Linked DNA regions of Homo sapiens. The protein of the gene in region 1 interacts with the protein of each later gene in a pairwise test. Each region holds a gene or a part of one and is shown on either strand. Other genes may lie near its edges.

Region 1 (5,906 bases):
AGTTTCTCCAATTCTGTCTACTGAAACTATTGAAACTCTTTGGAGCTGTGGATAGGAGAAGGAATGATCAAAAACCAGTAGGTGATAATGAGGCATTCATTAAGGAAAAAATCCACAAAGTATTTGGTTATCAGTGAAAAACTTACCATTTTAATATATAGTATTTTCATGGTTTTTGTTTTTAATCATTTTTTTAGGCTGACGATATCAGAGCTTTGCTGATAGATGCCATGCCCCCAGAGGCCTTACCTACCTGTTTTAAACCTCAGGCTACTGTAGTGAGTGCCTCTCTGATCTCACCAGCATCCACCCCCTCCTGCCTCTCGGCTGCCAGCAGCATAGACAACCTCACTGGCCCTTTAGCAGAGTTGGCCGTAGGAGGAGCCTCCAATGCAGGGGATGGCGCCGCGGGAACAGAAAGGAAGGAAGGAGAAGGTGAGTAGACCCCATGAATGCTTATTTATTTATACCTTTTGTTAGTGGAGCAGAATGACTTTTTTCTATTGATAACTATTGAATGCCTCAATTAGAGACGTCCTGTCTGTAAATTTTCATACACACAACATCTTACAAGAAATATTTCTTCATAGAAGGCTGCCACGTTTCTTGGCATTGTCGTTGTTCTTATTTCTGTATATTCTAGAGCATCTGTTTACAACCATAGCATCTTATTGAACCACTTATACTGAAATTGTGTCAGAACACAACTGAGAGGTCATTTCAGGAATGAAAACTAAAATGATAGCTGATACATTTAGATTTTTTAATTCATTAAAAGCTTTAGATGTTTCTATATAAGTAGCATTCTGTAGTATAAGAATTATACTATAATGTTAAAATTAGTATAATATTCTCTATATTTTTATAAATTACAATAAGTTATAATTCTATATTCTAACCATAATATTAGAATACAAATACTAATTTGATAAAGATAAAACACTCTGTTTTTACTTCCCAATCAACTTCAGAAATAAAGTGTCTAAATTAAATCTGTGTATTCTGTATTATTTTATGCCATGGAAAATCATCTGACAGCCAAGGTTGTCAGAGTCATGTCTAAATGGATACTGAAATTTTCTTTATATTTAGAGAATTCTTTCTGAGAATCTTTAATATGTTTCTGTTTTAGTTGCTGGTCTTGACATGAATATCAGCCAATTTCTAAAAAGCCTTGGCCTTGAACACCTTCGGGATATCTTTGAAACAGAACAGGTAAATACTCTTGTATATATTTGAGTCATTTAAATTAAATACTAAGATTAGGCTGGATGCAGTGGTTCACACCTTACTCCCAACACTTTGGAATGCTTCGGCAGGATTGCTTGAGCCCAGGAGTTTGAGACCAGCCTGGGCAACAAAGCGAGACCCCCATCTCTACAAAAAAAAAAGTTTTTAAGTTAGCTGAGCATGGTGACTTACTGGGCCCCTGTAGTGCTAGCTGCTGGGAAGCTGAAGCAGGAAGATCATGTGAGCCCAGGAGTTTGAAACTGCAGTGAGCTGTGATTGTGCCACTGCATTCTAGCTTTGGCGACAAAACAAAACCCTATCTCGAAAAAAAAAAAAAAAAGAAAGACTTATTAATTGCCACCCACCTCTTCCTCTTTTGCTTCTTACGAGCTATTCTTAAACCCACAACACATTTCTATAAGAAGCCAGAGGAGCCCAGTATTTTATACTTCTCCCCAAAATTGTCTAACAAATGAGTCTTTATTTTATCTTTATAAGCAGTCTAGCACTATGCATTTTATTACATGTCAAAACTTAGACCATGCAACTACCTCAAAAGAATGTTTTCATGATTGTCCTTGGTTGTTTGTTTCCGAAAAATGTCAGTCTTTATTCATCTCATTTCATTATTCATGTGACTAGGCTCCTGAAGCAGTTGCCCATTAATTTGGAAAGCACAGTAGTACTTAGACAACTGCACTTTTAAAAAATTGCCCCTTTATGAAGTTTCTGTTGTCCACTTGGAGTCTTAAATAATATTAAACCAAAAGTTGGCCATACATTCCAATAGACCCACCCTATTTTGGGATCCATCTTAAATGTCTGTGAAGGTCTAAGGATGGAGTCATCATTAGGGCATTTATGAATTAGGATTCTTCTGTTTGTTTTACTGTTTTCATACAGGATAAGGAGTTGTAATATTGTATGCTTTCATTATTATGATCAGCTTTAAATATTGAATGATGGTAACTCCTGAATTTAAATGGACTATTGATATACATGAAATTTAAGAATGGGAAAGGTGTTTAGAGAAAAATTATTCTCCCAGGTGTAGGGATCACCCTTGTATAATAACACCCATGTTAGTCCTCCAGCCAAGGAAGATATCTTGTTACAATTTGGGACAGGTGTAATAGAATGCTTGTAACTTAAAGTGTGCCAAAATCTGCCCGTAGGTATAATTCCTTTGTTTTCAGCTTACGCTTACGCTTACCCTGTTTTGCACAGAGATCTAATCTCCAGTCTACATATGTATTCAGTTTCAGAGGACTATACTCCCTACAGAGGCTGTAGGGGAGAATCTATTCCATGCCTCTTCCTGCTTCTGATGGTTGGCAGCTTCCTTGGCTTGTGGCCATGCTACTCCAGTCTCTGCATCCATCTTCACATTGCCTTCCTGTCCTCTCTATCTCTTCTAAGGACATTTGCATTGAATTTGAGGCCACCAGTATAATCCTGGGTGATCTCCTCATCTCTAGACCCTTAACATAATTTCGTCTGCAGACACTTTTCTTCCAAGGAAGGTGACATTCACAGGTTCTGGGGATTAGAACATAGACGTATCATTTTGAGGGCCACCATTCAGCCCACTACAACATAATATGGCCCTAGATATCTTTTTAAGACCTAGTCAACTTATCAGAGGTGTCACCCTTTCAATCACCCACCTCTACACATCTTCCCCTATTTTAGAATAAATCTGTTTTTTCAATTATTCTTTATATGACATAATTTTCCAGTATTTCACTGGCACCTTTGGCCCATTATGGTTCCCTTCTAGGCTTATAGTCAGTTTGGAGTTAACTTAAAAACCAGGTCTTTTTTCTTATTTATATCAATTATACTGTTAAGATTTTTTTTCTGCTTTCTCTCTTTTTTTTAGCTACATTTTTTCATTATAGTTCATCTTTAATGCTCTTAATGATAAGAACAGCCGAGTAGGGATAGCACTGGACTAAAAGAAGACCTTAATTCTAATTATTTTTACCCTCTTACTAGCTGTGTAAAATTGGGCTGAATGACATTTATCCTATCACTTCCTTTACCTGTAAAACCTAATGCTTATAAATGTTCAGAGAGTTAAAATCCTCAGTAATATTGTGCTGCTGTGTCAGCTTTTAATACAGTGATGCATCACAGGTGCCTTTGCGTCTAATGGTTAGGACTTTATAGACTGCTGTCTATAAAATCATTTTCTTTTCCAACCATTTATTCATCCTCTGGTTTGGAGCTTTCTTAGGACAATATCCTAAATAGTAAGACTGCTTCATCCTTATTCCCTAACTGAAGGTGTGAAAGCTGATTTAAAACCATTATACTCTGCTGTTCCCATATTACAGCTATAGCTGTTCTTCCCAAATCATTTCCACAATAATTGTAAAATTTCAAACACATCTTTGCTAAATAAACCAAAGACCTTAACTCAAACAAATAATTCCAATTTACTGATGAAAGTTTTCTAAAGAATGTTCATTTTTCTTCTTTTAGTCAGTTTGCATTATAATTTTATGTGTTCTTTTTAAATTTATATCGTATATTCGCATTGTCAGTAACTGACTTCCTGTGGCGTATTTATCACATTTTATTGATTTGAATAGTTTAATAGTTTAGTCTCCTAGTCACTCCTTCTGACAGCTTGTCCTGGTTTCATCAGTTTCATTGTTCTTTTTTTACTGCAGTTTCATTCTGAGTAAATGGTTCCATTGGTTTTCTTTTAGCCAGAATAATTTCTATAGCCTTTTATTGATCAATACATAGACGATTGCATTTAATGTATATTACCAAGCACAGTTCTTTCCCTCCAGACAGGTGATACTACCTTTCTTTGTATTGAACTGTGTCTGGCCCAATCATCAAGCAATCAAATTTATTTTTATTTTAATTGCAAATGTTATTTATCTAGCCTTCCATTATAAATAAATTTGATAACCTTTTCCATAACTTTAACCCTTAGCATTTTCTCCCATTAACATTCTATATCAGTAATATGTGATGATGGTCAATGTATTTGTATAGTCGGGGAGGAGTGAGGGTGCATGCATTGAACGCATTTAATTCATATCTGTTTGGCTTAAGCCAGGGGAGCCGTTGTTTTCTGATGCTCTTTGACATGCTTCTATGTCTCATTGCCTGTGTTCCTACTCATGGATGCCAGTGGGGTGTGGAATGTAGTTATTTTATTTCTGGTCCCAGAAGAAAACCTTCGGCACATCATAGCCTCACCTCCTATCTTCACAGTTACTCTCTTGGAAGTCTCTAAACTAAATTGTCCTGTTTCCCATAGATACTTTGCCAAGTTCTATGTTGAATAATATAGTATCCTTTCTAGTTAATGAAATATAGTACCCATGTGACTTTGGCCCTTCCTTTATAACATAGCTTTGTACCTATGAACATAGGTAGGAACACTTTTTATATGGGAAAGACAGATTTTATTTACACTGCAATTCCTAGAACATAAATGCTATCACTTGGAAGACTGCTTGTGGACATTTTTATGGTTAACCTATGTATTTTCATGGAAAGTGACCAGATAAATTTTGATTTCAAATTCTTGAAGACAAAAGCATGGCCTCCCATAATTCATTGTGAACTTGATTATAAAGTTAGTTCTTATTACTCCTGCTGTACCATACAACCTTTTAAGCCCAAGCAAGAGGACGTCTTTTTCATTAAAACTAGTTTTCTCTCCCCACCCAAAGTAAAATGACTCTCAGAAGCTAGAGGTAGCTCTTTTTGCAGTGACCTTTGCTTTATGTGCAAGATGACTTTAACTGACACGTGGATAATCTTTATTCTTAGTAATTTTATTTTAATGTATACTAGATAGAAATAACTAGCCCAACAAGCTTGTGATTTCCTCAGTATAATAACTAAGTCAAGGTTTTAAAAAAGGAGCAAGTTAATTTAAATATGATTTTCAGAAAAAAAAATGTCTAACAGCTGATAGGGGTATATATAAAATTCCTGAGTCTTGAAGCAACATGTCTAAAATCCAACTAACCTGCTTTCCATCCAGATATTTCTATTTCTTTTGTTGATGCAAAAGTCTCATAGTTACCCAGCTACAGAATTTTGGAATAATCTTACTTTCATTCCTTTTATTTTAACCATTTCTATTTACCAGGCCCTGTAAATACAGTTCTCCAGTTGCTTTCAGATTCATCCCTTCCATGCCATTTTATCTTCTTCTTATTCCCAGTTGCCTTCCCTTCCAAATCTGCCCTTCATAATGCCAACAGTCTCATCCTCCTAAAATACAACTTTGATCATATTACTCTGCTGAAAAGACTTCCCAGGGCCTTTGGTATACTTTTTTTGTTTTTGTTTGTTTTTTTTTGTTTGTTTGTTTTTGAGATGGAGTCTAGCTCTGTTGCCCAGGCTGGAGTGCAGTGGCGTGATCTCAGCTCACTGCAACCTCCGCCTCCCAGGTTCACACGATTCTCTTGCCTCAGCCTCCTGAGTAGCTGGGATTACAGGCATAGGCCACCATACCCGGCTAATTTTTGTATTTTTAGTAGAGATGGGGTTTCACCATGTTGGTCAGGCTGGTCTCAAACTCCTGACCCCGTGATCTGCCCGCCTTGGCCTCCCAAAGTGCTGAGATTACAGGCATGAGCCACCACACCTGGCCAGCCTCTGGTATACTTCTAAGCCTCTTAGTTTGATAGATAAGG
Region 2 (2,757 bases), on another chromosome or scaffold:
GCTGTGTAAAACTTCCTTGCAGGGAAAGGCTTTTGATTGGTCCCAAGATACAGGAGGAGGCACACGGCACTCAGTCCACCCGGGGCCCCGTGATGGTGCCCTCCCCACCCAAAGGTTGGTAGTCTGATGATAGCAGGGCCCTCTGGATCCTTCTACAGGGTTCCTGTTCCTGGCCCAGCTGGGCCTAGCTCCTGTTTGGGGAAGTCAGGCTCTGAGAACAGAAAAATCTGGCTTGTTCCTACCCGCTGCCTCTGGCAAAGCACTCGGCCCAGCAGCCTGGGCCACTTTGAGTGATCTCTAACAGGAAAAGCCACCAGACCATGCCTGCTGTGCCCTTCCTGGCTGAACACGCAGCCAGCTGGAGTGCCTGGCAACACAGCAGCTCATGGCCTTGGGGCCCCAGCTTCTATGACAGTGCAGCACAGACAAAGGCACTAGTCTTCAGAGATCAGGCTGGCAGGGGAGAATCCATTCAGGGCAGGAGAAACAAGAAACAGTGGTGAGATTTACCAAAAACTGTTTATTGCGACTTCCACTGGAAGCTGTTAATAAGCCACATGGCAGCCAAGAGCCAGGTGTGACCTAGATCAGCTGGATGCAAGTGCCTGTCCCTTCATCCACACAACCTGCTGCTCGGGGACCCTGCTAGGATGCGCTTGCTGGCAAACTGGCTAAAACCCAACAGGGAGAAATGATGCTACTGCTCATCATTTCCACCTCCCCACATCCCATGTCCAAGACAATACAGGAAAATGCCACAAGTACCCCTCCAAAATAAACCCGCCTGCGTCTGTCTGTCCTACTGAGGAGCCAGGAGTGTCCTACGGCTCTGCAGCAAACCAGAGACCCAGCACCAGCGAGGCACCAGTCCCTTGCTCGCTGTTCCAGTGACCTCCCCTGCAGAGACCCCAGCCTCACCGGTGTACTCAGTCAGCTCCACAATGCAGGAAAAGTGGGAAGCCACACTCAAGGAAGCGCAGGGTTTCTGATTGGAGCTGTAGTTGGTCCCAGGGGACCTGGCAGAGCCCCAACAGCTGTAGCCCTCATCAACTCTTCTGGAAGACACGGTGCAGGCTTTGGGCCAGGATGTCTGTCTCCTCGTAGCCTTCACAGCTTTGCTGCCAGCTCTCTGGCACCTGATCCATCCCATAGTAGGCACCAGCAATGGCCCCAGCCATGGTGGCAATGGTGTCTGTGTCCCCACCAAGTGAGATGGAATAAATGAGAGTCCTTTGGAGGCTATTGAAGGCAGAAGGGATCTCAGGGTCTGGCTCCATGCAGCGTAGGAAGCAGTAGATGGCGGTGGGTACCGACTCAAAGGCAGCAATGCCATTCCCTGTGGGGAAGCCAGGTTAGAGGGGCTGCATGCTTCCCCAGGCCTCCTACCATTTGACACAAGTCAGCACTCTCGGCTTCAAGCAGGCTGTGACTAAGATCTCAGGCTCTACAGTTAGACCACCTGGGCTCAAATCCTGGCTCCACCACACACTGGCTGCGTGACTGGGAGAGTTACCTAGGGGACCGCTAAGCTTCCTGCTCCCAGATTCAACTCCTTAAGCAGACAGGGAGTAACGTTAGCAACTCTCTGACAGGGCTGTTGTGAGGATGAAGCGAGATCGTGTCTGTGAAGCATTCTGCACAACGCCCAGTATAGATGCTAGACAAATAAAATCCATTATCAACATTTTTACGACTAGTGGCCAGCTGCCATTTCTGGGGACACTGGTCCACAAGGCTGAGGGTGCTGTAGCTTCAGAGCAAGAAGCGCTGAGCTCAACCCTGCCATTGACTCCGTGTCACAGCAGCCCAGGGTACAATGCGACGGCAGGCATGACTCCATGCTCCCCTGAGCCCAAGACCGACCCTGAAGGACGACAGAGGGAGAGACAATCCCAGGCAGACCCACTCACCTAGCTCAGACACCACTTCCTCCCTGGTCACCGATGCCTGGTCTAGAAGCTCTCCAATCTTCTTCAGGCGGCTGGAGTATGGACGCTCCTCCATGCCCAACCTGTGGTTTAGGGGAGATTTCAGGGAGGTCAGAGCTAGCAGGGTGGTGGCGCGGGCAGGGGAGAGGGCTGCATGTGAGAACGAGCAGGGATGTGGTCAGGCTGGCAGCCAGGCACAGGTGCCGACAAGAGGTGGGAGAGGGCTGGGGTGAGCAGGTCGTTTCGTTCTCTGGGACCCTGAGAGCCTTGAAACATAGACAAGATAAAGGGGCTTCTGCCCATGCCTCCCTAGGGTCTGCAATTGAGGAAGGTTTACAGTTTGCGGCAATGCCAGAGGCCCCCTGGATCACCCACATACCCACACCACACACCTCCAGCCCCATACTCACTCCCTGGCATCCAAGACGGACTGGGCATCACCCTCCAGATCCTCCATGTGGCCCAGGAGTTGCTTGAGAAAGTGCTCGCTGGAAGACTCGCCCTGCAAGGCCAGGTGCACAGCCAGGGCCTGCAGGATGGCGCCATTGTAACCCAGGGAGGAGGCGTGTGTCAGCTGGGCCGAGAGCCGGGCAAACTAGGGAGGAGGAGACCTGCTGTCACAGAAGCCCTGCTGCAGAAGAGGAAGGGGACAGCCCAGAAGCCAGCCCGCCCTGAATACCTTCTGCACATCCTGGACACTGCTATAGGCCAGGGAGATGCCAGCCACCCGCATGGCACCTCCATTGCCATAGGAGCCTTTCCCGTTAAACTGGGCCCGGGCAGGCTCAAAGACATCGCGACATTTGGGGTTCAGGAGCTTCTTGAAGAC
Region 3 (3,716 bases), on another chromosome or scaffold:
CAACACTTTGGGAAGCCGAGGCAGGAGGACTGCTTGAGCCCAGGAGTTTGAGACCAGCCTGGGCAACAAGGAGAGACCCCATCTCTACAAAAACAAAAATTAGCCAGGCGTGGTGGCGCACTCCTGTAGTCCCAGCTACTTGGGAGACTGAGGTGGGAGGATCACTTGAGCCCAGGAGTTCGAGGCTCCAGGGAGCTATGATTGTGCCACTGCACCCTACCCTGGGCAACAGAGACCAACACTGTCTCAGGAAAAAACAAAAACAAAGCGGGAGGCCGGGCGCAGTAGCTCACGCCTGTAATACTAGCACTTTGGGAGGCTGCAGTAGGCGAATCATTTGAGGTCAGGAGTTGACCAGCCTGACCAACATGGCAAAACCCGGTCTCTACCAAAAACACAAAAATTAGCCGGGTGTGGTGGCACATGCCTGTAATCCCAGCTACTCGGGAGGCTAAGGCACGAAAATCGCTTGAACCTGGGAGGCAGTGGTTGCAGTGGCAGAGATCACATCATTGCACTCCGGTTTTTGAGACCCTGTCTCAAATAAATAAATAAATAAATAAATAAATAAATAAATAAAGCAGGGCTCACTCAGGGAAACTAATTTTCACATTACAGCAGGCAGGCCACAGCGCAACGCCCTGCTGATCCAGTGACTACAAAGTCCATCCCGCTGTAATCCTGGCCTGTATGAGCCCTCCCTCTGACCCCCTTCCCAGTGCCAATCTGACAAAGAAAGGTCATGGCAGGACCTGGGGGAAGAGAACAACAGAGCCACTGCCAGGCCCCATGGCCAGTTTGGCCCCAGTGGACATCTCATTGGAACCTTCTCTGTTTGCAGCGCCCAGCGGGTCTCAGCCCTCCCTGCCAGCCAAGCACACAGGGGGCCCTCTTGTCCACTCAGGCTGGGCAGCTCTCAAAGCACTCTCTCACACAGCATCCCTTACCATCCTCCAGGCTACCCAGGGATGTAGGCAAGAATTGCAGCCCCCAGATTCAAAGACAAAGAGACTGAGGCTTCCATGTGCCAAGTATCCCTAGAAGTCAGCAGACCTCTGATTTCAGCCTGTATCACCTGATGTCAAGACAGCTGTCTTCCCTCCACCTGCCCTTCCCCACGGCTTTGGGTTTTGGTTATTTCACAGCAAAAACTGAGACACAATCCCATTTTAAAGAAGAAGAAATTGAGGCACAGAAATTACATAATCTGCCAGAGGTCCCACAGCTATGAAGAGGGAGCTGGGATTCAATGCCAGGCGGTCTGGCTCCAGAGGCCAAGCTTTGCCGGCTGTCCTATAGCTAAGTCACTCTACAAGTTTCAAATGTTTCTCCACTCACCTACTTCCCCAAAGGGAAATAAGCAGTATGGGGGGACCACTGAAGCCCAAGGCCTTCAGTACCACCATTCTGATGGCCAAACTTCAAGTCAGAGCTATGGGGGCAGTGCAGCAGCCCTGGCTCAGGCTACCCTGAAGAGACGCAAAGACCACACATGTGTTTTTTCTTTATAATCAACCAATCACCAAAGGTCCTGTTAACACTCCACCTCTCCCCACCCCAACCTTCCTCAACCTGCAGACAATGTCTGTACCGTCAGCTCTCTTCCTCCTCCACTTTAAGGCTGATGTTATCTCTTCAGACTATCTGGGGTCTGCAGGCCTCAACTCTGATGCCCCCTATTTCAACAAAGCTTTGGCCTCTCAAAGGGCCCTGAGTGACTCTCCTAGAATCCCCCTCACCCCACTACAATTGCTTGCTTGAATCCAGGAGACGGCAAGCTCCATGAGGCAGGGACGTGCCTGATTATTTGTTGACCACCCTGGTCCCCAGTGCCCCACACAGGATTTGCTGCAGGAAGGCCTCCAGGCCAATGTTTACTTCAACCAGATCTCACCTGTGTACAAGAAGGTCAGGGGTGTAGGGGCTCTGCCAGCTTAGACCGGGCAGCCTGCCACCAGGCCTGGAATCTGGTGCAGCTTCAAGAAACAGTTACTCCTCCCTCCCCCGGTCTATCTATGCTTCAAACATTCCCTAGCAGTTTCTTCGAAGCACAACTGAGTCTTACAGGACCTAGTCCCTAGTGCATTCCACCCACACGTTTTAATGGAGAAAGTGCTGGGACGTATCACTGTCCTTTGATAGAGGAATTTTTCTCCTGATTTGTGCTAATAATTCATGAGGGAGGGGCCGGGCAGCTTCCAGTTTACTCTCACCTCCAAGTTTCTAAGCTCAAAACAGAGTTTTTGTTTGTACCATTGCTCCTTGGGTCCAAAAAAAAAAAAAAAAAGTTTTAAGAGAAAACATTTGCTGGTTTTCAGAGGGAGGAAAGGCAGAGATAATGAGTGCTGGCTTAAGCATGTTTGAGGAACACAGATACTCAGAAACAAAGATTTTTCAAACCACCCTGCAAGTATAAGCAGAAACTATTCCCACCTGACCTGAGCAATGAGGAAAAGGACGGACCCCTTCACAGCCCTGGAACAGCCCACTTTCAGAGCAAGCACGGGAAATGATGAAAACATTACAAATTGTGCTTAAAACCACATAAACATGGGCATAAAATATTACAAATCTTTATTCTGATTAGACTTAGAAATTCTCAGTGTGGCTTCTGTTTTAACAAACATTTGAAAAGAGACAGACCTATAAAATAGGCATTTAAAAATTACATCAGCATATTGAGTTTTACTATCTCACCTAGCAGGGCTGTCGCACACCTGAATGACCCATTTATCTCTGACTCACTGCCTCCTCTTCCATCCATTACTCGCCCATGCCTGGCACAAGGCCCCCTTGCTGGCCCTCAGCTAAGCCAGGCTTAGCCCTGATGCGCCCTCCAGCTGGAATGTTCTTCCCCCACATGGCCTGAGGCTTGCTCACTCTCTCCAGACAATACTGCATTCCTCTCCCTCCCCTTGCCTCCAAACACCCACCAGCTGAGTCCCCTTCCAGCTCTTTGCCTCCTTTGTATACATCAGATAACCTACCATGTGTATTTTAACTTTTTATTGCGTTTTCCACCCCCTCTGCAATGTAAGCCTCAGAAAAGCAGGGACTTCTGTCCATTCTCTTCACTGCTCTGTCCCCATCACCGAAAATTGCCCCCATCACGTAGTAGGTGCTCAATAAATACTTAGTGAATTAAAAAGCTGGTCAGGCGCAGTGGCTCACACCTGTAATCCCAGCATTTTGTGAGGCCAAGGGAGGCAGATCGCTCTCAGCTCCAGAGTTTGAAACCGGCCTGGCCAACATTGCAAAACCCATCTTTCCTAAAAATACAAAAATTAGCCAGCGTGGTGGTGTGAGCCTTTGGTCCTGGCTACTTGGGAGGCTGAAGCTGGAGAATCGCTTGAACCCGGGAGGCTGAGGCTGCAGTGAGCCGAGATTGTGACACTGCACTCCAGCCTGAGTGACAGAGCAAGACCCTGTCTCAATAAATAAATAAAGCTGACTGATCAATGGATCTGTGGGAAAATGCTTATTTTCCTAACTTAAAACATCAGGCTTATATCCAAGGGCTCTCTGGTTAAAAGGTTCCTCCTTTTACAGCTTGAAAAGGTTGGCTTTTGCTGATATAAATCAGCATGCAAAGGGGACCCAGCACTGTTCAAATAAGGTCAGAGGCAAACCCAGGTTGCAGGAAGAGACAGACATCCAAGTGACACGGCAGATGGCTGGCATCCAGAGGCCCTTTTGCAATCTGGAATTTAAATGGC
Region 4 (2,758 bases), on another chromosome or scaffold:
CCATTTTTATCACCACAAATTTCTTGGTAACAATGTAGAATTTAATTTTGTAATTAAAACAAAAACTCTCCCCTAGGAGGAATCTGATGACATAAGGATAACACCAAGTTATGTGCACAAACGACAAAAAATGCCAAACTAACTGGAATGATCATCCTTCCTGAAATTTCTCTTAAAAAGCAGAGAAGTAGAACCAATGCTGCCACCTAGTGGCCAGCCAAACAAATCAGGTAGCATACTGGAGAAAAAGGTCATAGTCCCGACAATCTGGTTTCCCTGCCTATTATCAAGCCACCTAACTCCTTACTTTTCCACAAAAAAACACAACCACATATCTTAAGCAAGCCCTCCTCCACAGTCATAATCCAAATACTTGAATACAGCAACCAAAGTCTGTCTTGTTAAACACACTACTTCTCATGAAACTTTCCTCTGCCTATTTTAAGGTAGGTTTGCCCGGTCCTATGGCCCAGTAGAGATGACACAGGAGAACACGGAAACATCCAAAATGTTCACTGGTTCAGAGTGTGTACACAGTAATTTTGATGTCTGTTGCCTCAAATACCTCCTCGATCATCGCAGATACATTTTCCCATTGCAGACGATCAAGACCACATCCAATCCTGAAAAAGACAAAATATCTCCATTGATGGTAACGAAAGTATCTAGGAAACTGCTCCTCTCTTTTAAGCTATATCCACTCAAAGCATAAAAACAAATAATCTAGTCTGACACCCTTATGGGCAACCATGGTAGGAGTTTGGAAGTCAATTCTTGTTGTGAGTCACCGAAGACCATTCCTAGACAGCTCTAACATCCAAAAACTATCACTTCTGTTTGCCTAATAAGATACTACTTTCCAACTATTTCATGCTACATTTAGAAATGTGTAACTGTCATGACATTAGAGACTCATTATCCCTCTATGACTACTGACTAAAATTGGCTGTGGATGGATGGTGAAAGGTTGGTATTTTAAAAATGCACTTATGGTAACAGAATGTTAACGAAAGTAAGGAGAAGAGGAATGAGGTACAGGATCTGCAAAAAAGAAAGTCAAGAGGGAATGCTGGGAAATGGTAAGATAGTTGCAATCCAGGAGTAAGGTCTTTGCAACACCCTGGTAAGAATAAACTCAGTCCATAAAACTCTACTACTTGGCACCTTCCAAGATGTTACTCTAGTGATCCTCAACACGCCTAGGGAAAAAAGAGACCTAAAATTGGTAATTTCATGTCATAATGTGATAATTAAGTCCATAAGGAATTGTGATTAAAAAAAAAGTTTCTGATATGTATGTACACCATAAATATATCAAAGACCAGTGTAAAATAAGGGACATTTGAGGCCATATGCAAAGTAATGTGGGGCGCAAGATAAAACTGCATGTATGCTCAGCATTGACTCAAAACTACCAGGGTGACAGGAAGAAAAGAGGTGAGGCCCATTTCCTGAAAAGAAAGCAAAGGGACTACTGAACCCTCAATGTCATTCCCTAAATTCCCAATAGCTAAAGTCTAAGAAGTTACATCAGGGACAGATCCTCTGGCTATTACCCATACTGACCAAAACAAGTGTGCAGTATAAAAGGGAATGATAATTTACAACTTTCTTGACGCAAAGTAATAGGTTTGGGAGATGGGAAGTGGTCCAAGAGGAAAACCACCATTGCTCAGTCTTGATTCTTTAGCTTACATTGCTTTAGGAATAAAGGCCAAGCTTCAAGCAGAGGGTGCTGAGAATTCAACAAATGTAGCTGAATGACAATGGTCGCTCTCTGCTAAGCAGGCTGAGGCAGATGTATATTTCAAGGTAATTGTCCTGATTCATTCAACTCAAGCTAGAAAATGGCTGTGCCTTAGTCTAAAGCCAGACAACTGGTTCACTGGTGGTTTTACAAAATTTTGACTTTTGTCCACCTTTAAATCTATATTTTGGGTTAAGCTTTTAAGTTGTTTGTCTTTGGGTAAGATAGTAAACCCCACCAATCAATTAAATCTCCATTTAGGACCATGGATTTCCTTGCCTGGGCATGGAGAGGTCAGTGACTCCATTCTTCAGACAATGAGACTTCATTGCCTCTAAACTCTTCTGTAAGTTTTCATAAGTTGGCTTGTGCGAAGCCCTTTTCTTTGTAATCTGAACACAAAGGATTCAAACTTTCATCATCCCAAAATGATAGCCAAAGAAAAGTCATCACATTCCCCCAACATCCCAATAATTAAAAGAGTAAGCACATTTTTATAGAATTAGTCTAGAGCAAGGATGACAAATGTCATATTGCCCTTTCCACACTGTTATGGGAGACCTTCAAGAAAATCCACTAAATAGAGGCTGAGAAACCCAGACTCTGCCACGTAGCAATCTTTCCTTTTCCTAGGAAACCCATGAGATTAGCAGATGATGCCTATTGTCAATATTTTTAAGCAAGGTAGGTGAAGTCTCTGTGCCACTTCCAAGAGATAAGCTGCATATCTCTAACAGGGAAGAAAGCATACCACCTGAAAATTCCCTGCTAAAAGCCTCTACTTATTTAGAAACTGTGCTTGCTTGCTTTTTGTCTCTCTACATAAAACAACAGAAAAAACTGGTAGGGTCCCAAAGTAAAACCACTGGAAGCCACATAAGCTTTAAGGACAGAATTCAAAGGGGCTAGGACATCTCCCCACTCAGTTTGTCATCCAGATCAGGCTTGTAGTGGGTTAGCTGTAAGCTACCCACCACCACCACTAAGGAAGCCACACCCTTTCAGGGACCA

What was found. Proteins that work in one complex are often made in the same cells at the same time.
Region 2: the proteins of TNKS (region 1) and ADPRS interact in binary tests that used the Homo sapiens proteins (3 or more experiments, as listed by UniProt).
Region 3: the proteins of TNKS (region 1) and SH3BP5 interact in a two-hybrid assay, tested with the Homo sapiens proteins (2 studies listed by BioGRID and IntAct).
Region 4: the proteins of TNKS (region 1) and OARD1 interact in binary tests that used the Homo sapiens proteins (3 or more experiments, as listed by UniProt).

Annotation. Positions count from the first base shown.
Region 1 is NC_000008.11:9,751,412-9,757,317, forward strand, and holds part of TNKS (poly [ADP-ribose] polymerase tankyrase-1), read left to right. Parts: intron 1-197; coding exon 198-435; intron 436-1,132; coding exon 1,133-1,215; intron 1,216-5,906.
Region 2 is NC_000001.11:36,091,676-36,094,432, reverse strand, and holds the end of ADPRS (ADP-ribosylhydrolase ARH3), read right to left. Parts: coding exon 2,608-2,757; intron 2,524-2,607; coding exon 2,339-2,523; intron 2,012-2,338; coding exon 1,911-2,011; intron 1,337-1,910; coding exon 1,047-1,336; 3' UTR 501-1,046; downstream 1-500. UniProt on the Homo sapiens protein: ADP-ribosylhydrolase that preferentially hydrolyzes the scissile alpha-O-linkage attached to the anomeric C1'' position of ADP-ribose and acts on different substrates, such as proteins ADP-ribosylated on serine and threonine, free poly(ADP-ribose) and O-acetyl-ADP-D-ribose.
Region 3 is NC_000003.12:15,322,587-15,326,302, forward strand, and holds part of SH3BP5 (SH3 domain-binding protein 5), read right to left. Parts: intron 1-3,716. UniProt on the Homo sapiens protein: Functions as a guanine nucleotide exchange factor (GEF) with specificity for RAB11A and RAB25. Inhibits the auto- and transphosphorylation activity of BTK. Plays a negative regulatory role in BTK-related cytoplasmic signaling in B-cells.
Region 4 is NC_000006.12:41,066,815-41,069,572, forward strand, and holds part of OARD1 (ADP-ribose glycohydrolase OARD1), read right to left. Parts: intron 2,140-2,758; coding exon 2,027-2,139; intron 624-2,026; coding exon 521-623; 3' UTR 1-520. UniProt on the Homo sapiens protein: ADP-ribose glycohydrolase that hydrolyzes ADP-ribose and acts on different substrates, such as proteins ADP-ribosylated on glutamate and O-acetyl-ADP-D-ribose.